Linked DNA regions of Homo sapiens: regions 2 and 3 are each reported to be linked to region 1. The links are microRNA targets in miRTarBase. Many come from high-throughput screens and were not tested one by one. Region 1 holds a microRNA gene; each other region holds the end of a gene's coding sequence.

Region 1 (4,098 bases):
ACTGCACGTACTTGCTTATGCCCCATTCAGCACACCAAGCTGACTTGTTTCGAGTCTGTTTCTGATGGTAAGTCACATTCAGGAGGGTCTTTTATTCCTGAAGCTAACTTTAAATTGGAGCCACGTGCCGGGCTCTTGCCTGTTGAGGAGTGACTTCTGGTCAACCCAATTAGCAGAGTGCATGGAGTGCTCTGGCCCCATTCACTCCTCAGGATCGGAAGCTCCGGGTCTTGTTGATACGTCCTGGAGTGGCTGGCAGATGTCATTTGGTCTCCCCAAATGGAGTCTTCTCTGCCCTCCCTTCCTGGTCTCTGGCTATGAAGAAGGGAAGTTATGTTTTAAAGAATCTAAAGCACAGTACAGTTCTCCTTTCCCCTAATTTCAGCCTCTGAAATATATCAGCCTCCAGCTGCTGCCCCAGGACACTTCTGGGCTCTTATTTAAGAGGACTCCTCCAGCCTGGAATGCAGGGCAGTACACATGTCCTTGTCTTTCTTCCTGCTGTGCTGGCCCTCAGGGTACCGTTCTGCCTGGATACAGAAGAAGAGGTTCTCCCTGGGACAGAGGCTAACAAGCCCTGTCCAGCGAAGGGGTGGCCTCCAGGTTTTCTGGTTGGTGCAGAGCTGGCAAGGGTGGAAATGGAGGGAGTGAGGCCCTTCCCATCTGGCTCCAGGGACTTGTGCTCCTCTGTTTGGGACAAAGACTTTACCTTGTCAATGCAGCTTTATCTAAACTGTAGTCTGTGGATGGCGGTATCCCCCTAGATTCCTACAACTGCTTGACCCTTTTTCTCTTGGTTTTTGAAGCTATGACAAGAGCCTGATTTCGTGTCCATCTCAGTGAACATTTTTGTAAATAGTGGAGAGAGGAAAATCGTGAAGTTCAGCCAATTGCACTTGAAACCGGAGGTGGCCTCCCCCTGCCTGGTGGGACTCCTCCACTCTCTTCACCTTTGCTGCACTCTGGGTGTCCGCCTCCAAATCAGTGTGCTTCAGAGTTCTCAGAAGACAATGGCACCTAGTGTCCTTCTTGTTTTTGTCACTAAGAATGGATTAATTTTATCTCATCTGAAACTGAAAATATTACGTTTGGCAGACATTCTCTGAAATCTAGAACAAAAGAAATGTGTTCATTATCATCTAAGGATACACTTTCCAATCAGTTCAACTTGGCAGGTTCACCAGGAAGCTGTGTTATTTAAACTCGGATGGTCTAGGAGAACTGTAGACTTCCGGGTGCTAGATGATTCCTGCTCTGGAAACTCACCGAGCCATTTCAGCTGCGCTCTAGAGGAGCAAACCTGGGGCGTTAGCTCAACTCTTGCCCCCCTGCTGAAGGAGACCAAAACAATGCTTGATCAGGAAACACCATCTGGCTTTGCCCCCAGGATTCTGTGACTGCCCTGGGGAGGGCGCAGTGACCTGCCAACCAAAATTGGTACAATTGTAAACAGCCACAGAAATGCTTAAATGCAATATCATTTCTATGAAATTAACGTGTTTCCATTCCATTCCAGCCACCAAAATTGCCCGTTTGAGCTCAGCCCTCAAAACAAAGATGCCTGTGTGGCTTTGCCCAACGTTGGGTCACTGTTTTCTGCATAGGAGACAGTTACTGTGTGTGTGTATGTGTCTGTGTCTGTGTGTGTGTGTATGTACGTGTACACACTTAAAGCCTGTTGCAAAAACAAGATGCCCAATATATTTCTTGTTTCTGATATTTTCCCAAGGGCGTTGAAGGGCAAGATTAAGAAGGAAAGCTCCAAGAGGGAGCTGCTTTCCGACACTGCCCATCTGAACGAGACCCACTGCGCCCGCTGCCTGCAGCCCTACCAGCTGCTTGTGAATAGCAAAAGGCAGTGCCTGGAATGTGGCCTCTTCACCTGCAAAAGCTGTGGCCGCGTCCACCCGGAGGAGCAGGGCTGGATCTGTGACCCCTGCCATCTGGCCAGGTGAGCCCAGGCCTTGAGGTAAAATGACCTTGATAGTTTCTGGATCTGGCGTGTCCCTTCCATGGGGCTAGCTGAAGAAGGGTGGACGCACACATGCACACACTCGTGTGTGTGTGTGTGTGTGTGTGTGAGATTTATGCAGGCCTGTGTACAGCACTCAGGCAGTGCCATGAGCCTGTGCTTGTCCCTGCAGAGTCGTGAAGATCGGCTCACTGGAGTGGTACTATGAGCATGTGAAAGCCCGCTTCAAGAGGTTCGGAAGTGCCAAGGTCATCCGGTCCCTCCACGGGCGGCTGCAGGGTGGAGGTAAGGAGTGGAGAGTAAGAACGGCTTTTTGTTCCCAGGCATTTTAGGAATATTAAAGCAGGTTCCTTTGGAGTGTGCATGTGTGTGTGTACGTGTGTGTGTGCATGTGTGTGTGCACATGTGTGTGCATGCACATGCCTCTCTGTGAATTCCTGCTTCTGGCTGCTTTTTTTTTTTTTTTTTAATTTTTGTAGAGACAGGCATCTCACCATGTTTCCCAGACTGGCCTCGAACTCCTGGGCTCAAGCAATCCACCCACCTCAGCCTCCCGAAGTGCTGGGGTTATAAGTGTGAGCCACTGTGCCCTGTGAAATTGGCTCCTTTTTATGTGAGGTGCAAACCTCTGCATCCCACTGGCCTGGTCTGAGCACCTCAGAAGTCCTGGGTGCTGCTGAAGTTGCCAATATTTGAAATTATATTGTTTTCAAATCTTCAAAGTAAGTTGAGAACTCAAAGCCAAGTTTCTGAAACCCAGCTGCTGATTGAATCACCAGGGTGCTTGTTAATACTACATGTTTTCCAAGCCCTTCTTCCCTGGGACATCTGGTTTGGGGCCTAGGCTCTCTCTTTTCAACAAACATTTCACATGAATCTGGTGATTATCAAGATTTAGAGAAATCTGTTGTAATTCAGTTGTTTTCATCTTTTGAATCCAAGTATTTATTTCATGATGAATTTGAAATCCAGGCAGTAGGCTTAAACTAAACAATGTGTTCGCCTGTAAGATCCCCCATAAGGCATTTGGAAGAGATCTTTTCAGGGAGAGGGTGGGAGGATGCCGGGGGGTCTTTTGCATTTGAGTTTGAAGGGAGCTAACCCATCAGTGTTTTTGAGAAAGCTCACCTTGTCCCTGTTACCTGGAGTCCAAGGCTTCTGCCACTAAGCCCGGCCAAGCATTCGGGTGGGACAGCCGCCACCAAGCCAGGTGTCTGGGGTCTCAGTGTCCTGGATGACTCCATCTGCAAGACCAAGGCGAGTTTCTCCAGGGCCACGAGGCAGCGCCTGGCTCCGGCAGCTGGGCACGTCCAGGGCAGAGGCTGTGCTTCTGGATTGGGGCGTCCTCACCATGCCCCAGCCCAGGCGTCTCCCCCAGGCCTTCCTTCTGGAGAGACACCTTATTCGTGCCTGTCTCTTAAAGCCTCAAGTTTGATTGAAGAAGCAGAAGTTGGCATAGACACCTTTGAGCATTCAAGCTCTCGCCGGGCCTGCTGCAGGCATTTCAAGGCATCTTAGCCCATCGTTTAATTTAGGACAGAGGCCACGGAGAGGCACCGCTGGAGCAGTACACCGCACACCACAGGGTGGCTGCACTTTTTGGGTGGTGGGGTGGGGATGGGGGCAGGTATGATCAATCATCCAAACCAGGGCATTTTTAAGAGTAAAAGGAGGCTCTACTGATAACATGCTGCAACAACAGATGTGACTAGGAACGGCCGGTGACATGGGGAGGGCCTATCACCCTATTCTTGGGGGCTGCTTCTTCACAGTGATCATGAAGCCTAGCAGCAAATCCCACCTCCCCACACGCACACGGCCAGCCTGGAGCCCACAGAAGGGTCCTCCTGCAGCCAGTGGAGCTTGGTCCAGCCTCCAGTCCACCCCTAACAGGCTTAAGGATAGAAACGACACATAACACCGGGAAAAGCCATGCTGTCAAGCATCTCAGAATCTCAACCCCAGAGGCAGTCTTTAGGGACTGGGGTGGGCTCAGGAAGCTGTATTATTTCAAAGGACGCAGTGTTTCCACAGCTCAGCCCAGAGCTGCTGGAGTTCACACGGCCCACCAGAACCTGCTGACTTCAAAATCATCACCACCAAGGGGCCAGGAGGTGGCGCTGTGG
Region 2 (4,098 bases), not on the chromosome of region 1:
CATTTCTAAGCTGAATGCCCTTGGACACATGACTTAACATCTGATTAATTTCCTTCTGCCTCATAGGATCATTATATGAATGAAATACACTTTGCCAGGCACTGGATGATTAGTAGTCTCCACAAGCTGCTGCCATGGTATGGAGCTAGAATCAATCTGCCCTAAATGCTTCCTAAACTGGGCGAGACCACTGCAGTCACTTGCTGGTTCTAGCCATGAGTGTGAGTAGCTGAGCAGGCCTCTGCCAAGCTTATGACCAGGGCCTGTTGCTTTGCTCAGTTCTCTCCACTGTCCCAGAATTTTGGTACCTCCAGCTCTGTGTGGACTGTAAAGCAGCTTCCCTTGACTCTAGTGAGCACAGCCTCTGGCCACGATAAATCTGAAAGACTAGCTACACTGATTTCTGTGATCCCAAAATGTTGGGATCACAAGTGTAAGCCACTGTGCCAGGCCTCCACTGCCTCAGTTTCTGTTGTATGTCCTAATTATGTGACTAACTGCATCTACACAGGTGGTTCCAACAAGCATCAGGAAAAATGAACATTTATCACGCAACCCACAGGAAGCACAATGCACTAAACTTCCACATAACCACCCAGTAAATGAGAGGACTTCCTATTCCTAATCACAGCCTCATTTTCAACCATCATCCTCATTCTCAAGTATGAGGAAATGGAATTTCCTTGATCCAGACAGACTCCTAAGGCAAGATTTCTAGTTCCACCTGTTAATAACCAGATGTGTGGTGCTGGTTATGTCACTTCTCATCTCTAAGCCTGCAAAGTCGGGGGTAAGACTTGGTTCATCTCTAAAATAGGTCTTTAAATTCTAATGGATTTTATAAGGCACCCTTCAACTTCCAATTGAGCCTTCCAATCATTTATATTGCTGTGGCAGTGAGCTTAACCAGTGAACCTCTAAATAGGCCATACAGAATGGGCTCTCTTCCAGTTTGATACCAGCGATTTCTTCAACACAGGGAGAAAGTAGCAGAAAATTGGTATTAGTGGGATTTGTAATTATCAGGGCAGTTCCTATTGAAGGTTTTGTTACTGTGTCATGGCTGATTAGACCTGTCTACTCTGGTTTTTGGATAGTCCCCAAGGGCAACTGGGAGGCAAGGGCACAGAAGGGGTAGGAAACAAGAAAAAACATCAGTGCTTTGGACAGCAGAGCCCCTCAGGATAAGAATGAGCTTGATCATAGAAAGTAAGAGTTAAAGCCAGCATAGAATGCTTAAAGTTACATTTTACTTCGAGTAAGAGCAGATAATCTAGGATTCATCTGAAAACAGAAGAGCCTCAAGGTTTTCTGAAGTGGATTCCGTCATGGCTCCTCGTGGCTTCTTGGAATTAAAAAACATGGCCACTACCAAGGAAATGAGGAATAATTTTAAAGATGCTTACTTGGAGAAAGAAAGTATACATTGATCTAGAGTGACAGTTCTCCAGCTTAAAAAAAAAAAAAAGTGTTCCTTTTATGTTGACTCAAAATTTTATTTTTGAGACAGGGTCTCACTCCTGCACAGGCTGGAGTACAGTGGTACAAACATAGCTCACTACAGTCTTGACCTCCTGGGCTCAAGCTATCCTCCTGCCACAGCCTCCTGAATAGCTGGGACTACAGGTGCGCATCACCACACCTGGCTTGTTTTTAAATTTTTTGTAGAGACAAGGTTCTCACCATATTACCCAGGCTGGTCACAAATTCCTGGAATCATGCAATCCTCCTGCTTCAGCCTCCCAAAATGTTGGGATCACAAGTGTAAGCCACTGTGCCAGGCCTCAAAATACTAAAATAAATGACCAAAAAAAAAAAAAAAAAAACATCAGCTGGTTGCAGTGGCTCACACCTATAATCCGAGCACATTAGGAGGTAGAGGCGGGAGGATCGCTTGAGCCCAGGAGTTACAGACCAGCCTGAGCAACAAAGACCCCATCTCTACAATAAATACAAAAATTAGTGGGCTGGGCACGGTGGCTCATGCCTGTAATCCCAGCACTTTGGTAGGCCAGCAGGCAGACCACGAGGTCAGGAGTTTGAGACCAGCCTGGCCAGCATGGTGAAACCCCGTCTCTACTAAAAATACAAAAAAAAATTAGCCCGGCATGGTGGTGCACACCTGTATTCCCAGCTACTCGGGAGGCTGAGGCAGAAGAATCACTTGAACCCAGGAGGCGGAGGTTGCAGTGAGCCGAGATCATGCCACTGTACTCCAGTCTAGGTGACAGAGCGAGACTCCGTCTCAAAAAAAAAAAAAAAAAGCCAGGCATGGTGGTGTGTGCCTGTAGTCCCAGCTACTTGAGAGGCTGATGTGGGAGGATCACGTGAGCTAGGGAGGCAGAGGTTGCAGTGAGCCAAGATCATGCCACTGCACTGCAGCCTGGATGACAGACTGAGACACTGTCTCCAAAATTAAAAAAAAAAAAAAAGTTAGTTTAGAATATGCTTCTTCCAGTTTCACATGGCCCACTGGAAAAAAGCTAACAATTATCTGTAAGAGGAGTGAGACAAGATGCTGACTTTGGGGCAGAGTGAAGCAAATAAGCAGTCTTTTGCATGACGAGAGACTTGAAGATACAGAGGATGGCAGTGCATTTAGGGTTTAATTTAGGCTGCAGCTTGGGGAAGAAAATCAGTGGTCATCACTGCCTTTTGTCCACACTGTATCACTAAGCAAAGCTCCTGAGAACAAACTGCTGGGATAGTCATGACCCTCTCTTGGAGTGGATGAATTCTAGGGACAGGTGCCATAAGGAAAGGCTGCAACCCCCACAACAGAAAATACATATTTATTATAAAATAAAGTTAGTTTCATGAAGAGAGTAGAAAAATAACACTATGAGCTACTAAAAAAGTTGTGGAACTCAGTCTCCGAGGATTGGGGTGAGAGGCTTTCACATCACTCTGGAAACCCACCAACATGAGGCTCTCCGTGCTCATGTGGGACAGGTATAGCACAGCTCGTACAGGGAGCATGTGGCTCAGGTCCTGCTTGAAGCCCAAGGAGCCTAGATGGTCCACACGAGATGCTCTGGCCACGGTGATCAAGGAGGAGAACTTGAGGTCAGCAGGGGACTGGTTCTGAGAAGGGGCAGGATGGGAATAACCTTGCCCCTCCCTATACTGGAGTGTAGAAGAGTCTCTTGGGCTGATGGTCCTGGTTTAGAAGATGGTACCCACTGGCCTTATGCTGAGTTGCTTGCCCAAATGTCTGTGCTGAAGAAAAGCCACACAGCCTTTCTCAGGACAACTTGCCCCACCAATTCTCACTGGTGTGGCTAAAGTACCAGAAGCAATATGTGTGGTGTCAGCCTGATGGGCTGCTGGCTGAAATTCTGTACTTCAAATCCTGTCCATACGATGGCAGAAAGAAAGAAAATGTTAAAAGACCAGTGAATGAGAGCAGCTGGCCTCGACTGTTCTATATTCCAAGCCTCCTGGCCCCAAAGGATAGGGAGAGTATCTTCCCTGAGTGGGAAACGATCTACCTACCCTAAACAGGAAAGGCAATCCCATAGCCACCCCTTCCTCCCTCTAGAAAAAAGTCTTCTAGACCCCTTAGGCTTCAGAAGAATACTGAATCCCTCCCTGGGATGGGAACCCAACCCTCTAGTGATGAGAAATGGTCCCTCAGCAGCAGTACCTGGAGAAAGCAGCCAAGGTGAGCACCTCAAGTAAAAGCTCTGAGCCACAGAAGAAGAGCAAGATGCCATTCATGATGGCTTCCAGGCGGAGTACGTAGGTCTGCAGCAGCAGGTAATAGGAGGCCATCATGGCAGATGGGAAGGTCAAGGCCACGCTAATACTGAGCGGCATCTTTCGCTGGCAGAGGTTTCCCTTTGTACCTGTCAGACACAGCCCATGGAGTCATCTCCAAATGGTCTGCTTTTCCTGGCCCAGGGGAAAGGCGTGGGAGATGTGATGGAATGGCAAGGCACAAAAAATAATCCTGAGTGGGGGTGTGCAGATTTATAAATGGGGTCCCACTGTACTAAAAGTTTGAGGCTTAGGAGAGCTACAAGATTAAAGTCACTTAATCCAGAGGTCCTGCTTCCAGTCTGGTTCCCACTCAAGGGACAATGGGATCTTTATTTG
Region 3 (4,098 bases), not on the chromosome of region 1:
TGTGATAAGGGGCCAGTCCAGTGACCACAGGGCTTGACTTGGGCTGCCCCTTTCCAGGGTATTTATGTCACACGGGTGTCTGAAGGAGGCCCTGCTGAAATCGCTGGGCTGCAGATTGGAGACAAGATCATGCAGGTAACAGGTGTCCCAAAGGAGGAGAAACAAGGTTTGGGCAAGCAGGTCTGAAGCACTTGGGGGTGGGGAGCTGCCCCAGCCTCCCAGCTGGGAGAGACTCACTGCAGCCAATTGGGAACCCATACTGGCATTGCCCCAGAGGACGCTGGCTTTCTCTCCTGTGTGTCTCAGCCACAGTGCTTGGTGTCTCCCAGCCCTGGGATGTTAGGCTGGGGGCCTACTTGAATGACCTGGGCCCCCAAAGCCCTCTGCTTCCAGATCCCAGAGGGCGGGGAGCTGAGGTGAGCCTGTGTTCTCTCCTGGGGCCAGGTGAACGGCTGGGACATGACCATGGTCACACACGACCAGGCCCGCAAGCGGCTCACCAAGCGCTCGGAGGAGGTGGTGCGTCTGCTGGTGACGCGGCAGTCGCTGCAGAAGGCCGTGCAGCAGTCCATGCTGTCCTAGCAGCCACCACCATCTGCGACTCCTGCCTGCCGCCTCTCTGTACAGTAACGCCACTTCCACACTCTGTCCCCATCTGGCTTCTGCTGACCGCTGGGCCCCAGCTCAGAAGGGCTATAGCTGGTCCCAGAGGCCTGGCCTGGCCTTCCTTCCCTTCTCCCATCCCTGGCCTGGGGCCTCTGGGACCGGCTTTCTCTCCTGGACACCGAGGATTGGAAATAAGGGCCTGGAGCTGAGTAGTAGCCAGTCTGCTGTGACCACAGGCTCAGGTCCGACCCTGCTGCTTGGCCACAGCAGTGGCTGGGCAAGTGGGAACCACTATCTCTTGGGAGCCCCCAAAAGCTGGGAAATGCTGGAGGAACCAGGCCTTTCCCGCTTTTGCCTGGCTGCAGGGTTCGGCTCCGCCCCTGCCCCCCAGCCCTCGTGTGTCCACACCGCAGTGCCTCTGCCCCTCGGGGGACTGGACACACATCCTGCCAGAGGCGCTACGAAGCTTTGCCCAGATGAAGCCAGGTGGGCTCCGCGTTCACTCCCACTCTCCCGAGGGGTGCTGGCCTCCCCAGGGTTTGCCTTCTTACGGATTTAGACGAGGTTCGAGGCTCACCTATCAGGGCAGCTCTCAGGATTGTCATTTTCCTCTTTGCCTGTGGGTTTAACTTTTGTATTTTTTTAATCACAAGTTTGATACAAAATGTTTTTATCGTACTCTTTGGAGATGCCCATTCTACTTTTGAATTTAGCTTTTACTAATTCGCATCTGGAAGCTCAGCAAGTGCACAAGCCTTACTTTGGTTACCGTGGAAACCACTGCCGCCCCTCCCCGATGTGGTGCGCTCAATAAAAATGCTGGAATTCACAGGGGGCTTTGCTGAGGCATGGGCTGGGATATCGGGGTGGGGGTGGCGGTGGGATATTGGGGCCAGAGCTGTGGTTTTAATGATGGCCCCATCCCCCACTGTTCTGGGACAAAGCTCAACTACTCCCAGGCCCACCTGCCTGAAAGCCCGGGGCTGGTGGAGCCGCAGCAGCTGCACTGCGCCTGACCAGAACCACATCTGTGGGAGTGTCTGGGAGCACTGGGGTGGGACCCTGGGGTGCGTGTGCTTTCTTGGGTGTTACTGTGAAGCCCCTACTTGCTCCCAACCTCCTTTTTGCAACCTAGCCTCAGCTCCCACCTGGGAGGGGCCGTAGGGACACCCAGAGGTGCCTGGGAGAGACCCCTGCCTATAAGACTCCCTGCCTATAAGGGCACTCCGTGTATCCCAGCGAGGGACACAACCCCACGTGTTGCTGGGGGCCGTGATCTGGCCAGATGGGGGTGAGTCAGAGAGCACCTGACTACCTGCGTACCACCTCTGGGAAGGTGTTAGCACTCCTGGACCTACCTAGCACTGCCAAATCAGATTTTAAAGAAAAGTCAATAATTTTTTTTTTTTTTTGAGATGGAGTTTCGTTCTTGTTGCCCAGGCTGGAGTGCAATGGCGTGATCTTCGCTCACTGCAACCTCCGCCTCCTGGGTTCAAGTAATTCTCCTGCCTCAGCCAACCAAGTAGCTGGGATTACAGGTGCCCGCCACCATGCCCAGCTAATTTTTGTATCTTTAGTAGAGATGGGGTTTTGCAATGTTGGCTAGGCTGGTCTCGAACTCCTGATGTCAGGTGATCCATCTGCCTTGGCCTCCCAAAGTGCTGGGATTACAGGCGTGAGCCACCGCACTCAGCCGGAAAAGTCAATCATTTGAAATCTCTGATTTTTAAAGTAGGGCACCCAGTAACACATTTACTGGGTGTTGCAAGTGAAACAGGTCTGTGGACCCCGTCAGGCCAAAGTCTGCTCTGCAGAAACAAGACCTGACATTCTTTGACGTTTGTTACAACTAGATAGAGGAAGCGTCTGGAGAATAAGACCCCCACTGCCCCCGCTCCCAGTGCTGGTGTGCCCTTCAGAACCTCATCCACCCCGGCTCACATCCAGATTGAGTGGCGTGCCCTGGTAACCGTGAAGACACGGAGCCTGGGAGACTGACCTGGCCCTGGGCGGGTAGGCGTCTCGCGCTACCCAAGAGGGCTCCCCAGTGAAGTGTGGGGTCAGCACGCAGCGCTCTCGGGTCAGTGACCTTCACAACCTTATGCGCTTCCTTACACGAGGGGAGCAGGGCACCTGGCTCTGAAGGCCAGCACACCTGCCTTCTGTATCGAGCACACAGAGTGCAGAAAGGAAGCGAGTAGGTTTTAATTCAAGATACAGGCCCCTCGCGTTGATCTCGTAGAAGGAAACTCAGTGGACTGACAAGCTCAAGTCATGTATGAGGCACGTCCTGGGACCCCCACCCCTCCTGCCATAGGAAGGACAGCTTTGGGCAGAGGGAAGGAGGTTTGAGATCAGGGTTGGGCCCATACAGATTGTGTGAGGTGGTCTCAAGTACAAATACTTATCTGAGGCTCCTGAACAGGCCAGAAATTGGTGAGTCTCAAGTAGGTGTCTGGGGAAAGAGAGGGAAGGGGCCTGCCCTCGCTCCAGGGGAGCTGGTCGCCGTTTGGCAGGCCTAACAGACCTCTAAGGCACAGACTGGTAGCAGGAGAGAGCTATGTCCTGTACTCCAGATGCTGGGTAAGGAGCAGCTGGATGTGCTCAGATGGGGCTAATCTGAGAAGGTGGAGGTAGGAGAGAGGGCAGAAGAGAGTAAGCCACTTCCAAACGTCCCTCCAAAAAATCTGAAAGGAGTTACTATGCTAATGCGCTGGGCATGAATCCAATTCAGAACCAATCTGGTGGGCCCCTCATGGCTCAGAAATACTCTGGGTAGGGCTGGCTGTTACTGCAGTCACGGACGCTGAGTTATGTACAGAGAGTACGTCAGGAAAGTGGCCTTCAGAGAAAGAGCCCCATGGCCTAACCCCAAAGTCCTAGCCCGTCCACCAGCACCTCTGAGTTCACTGGCCACGGCACCGGGCTGCTTGATCTCTGGGAATGCAGCGGTGGCAGCAAAGTGCCCTTGGCTCACCCGGCTGCAAGGTCAGCCCTTCAAGCTGCTTGCAGAAACGCTGGTAGTTTGGGGCAAGGCCTTCGGCTGCAAGCTTGGTGCCCAGTCCTGCCTGAGACGGCTGCCAGAGCCTGTGCGCGCTGCCTGAAGCCTTAAAGAAAAGAGATGGCGGTGTCAAGGCGACGGTGCCACGTGCCTGGCCGGGGAGGCCCAGGAGGGGCCCGGACGAAGGCAGGCTATTGAATGGCCTCTGGCCCCAGGAGCAGAGTGGTCTCCTCTGTCCGCACACTGAGCCAGCCCTGTGTGCCAGGGCCCAACCGCTTCTCCGGCCTTCGCTGGGTGAGGCCTTCCCCAGCAGGGCACGAGGCCAGAGGCTGGGTACACTGGGTCCCTGGGTGCTAGTTCAGCTGGTCATACCCCGGTCTCTTTCTGTACAAACAGAAGTGCTGGATGAAGAAGACGACGTCGAAGACGATGGAGAAGACCCCGAGTCCAAACTTGGTTGGGTCTCCGAAGATCAGCGTCCACTGGTCTGT

The links. The annotated mature microRNA hsa-miR-6811-3p reads AGCCUGUGCUUGUCCCUGCAG and lies in region 1 at 2,124-2,144, shown strand. An mRNA with a match to its seed (bases 2 to 7 or 8) in the 3' UTR can be bound and repressed. Matches are read on the target gene's strand: a 7mer-m8 pairs with bases 2 to 8, a 7mer-A1 pairs with bases 2 to 7 and ends in A, and an 8mer does both.
Region 2: the mRNA of TMEM216 is a reported target of hsa-miR-6811-3p. The part of its 3' UTR that is shown has no 7-base or 8-base seed match.
Region 3: miRTarBase lists TAX1BP3 as a target of hsa-miR-6811-3p. Seed matches in the 3' UTR shown: 7mer-m8 at 838-844.

The regions. Positions count from the first base shown.
Region 1 is chr2:237,508,845-237,512,942 of GRCh38, forward strand. It overlaps MIR6811 (microRNA 6811), which reads left to right and starts at 2,087; the gene lies at 2,087-2,144. It overlaps MLPH (melanophilin), which reads left to right. Exons shown (of 16, transcript NM_024101.7): 3 at 1,730-1,951; 4 at 2,145-2,257. RefSeq lists enhancers at 1,557-2,057, 2,058-2,558, 3,939-4,098.
Region 2 is chr11:61,397,524-61,401,621 of GRCh38, reverse strand. It overlaps TMEM216 (transmembrane protein 216), which reads right to left. Exons shown (of 5, transcript NM_001173990.3): 4 at 3,647-3,848; 5 at 2,776-3,352. The coding sequence ends at 3,346. Among named protein-coding and RNA genes, the nearest start is that of TMEM216, 7.0 kb to the right of the region's middle.
Region 3 is chr17:3,660,232-3,664,329 of GRCh38, reverse strand. It overlaps TAX1BP3 (Tax1 binding protein 3), which reads left to right. Exons shown (of 4, transcript NM_014604.4): 3 at 58-135; 4 at 445-1,435. The coding sequence ends at 582. It overlaps CTNS (cystinosin, lysosomal cystine transporter), which reads right to left. Exons shown (of 12, transcript NM_004937.3): 12 at 1,227-4,094. The coding sequence ends at 3,961. It overlaps P2RX5-TAX1BP3 (P2RX5-TAX1BP3 readthrough (NMD candidate)), which reads left to right. Exons shown (of 15, transcript NR_037928.1): 14 at 58-135; 15 at 445-1,437. Among named protein-coding and RNA genes, the nearest start is that of TAX1BP3, 6.3 kb to the left of the region's middle.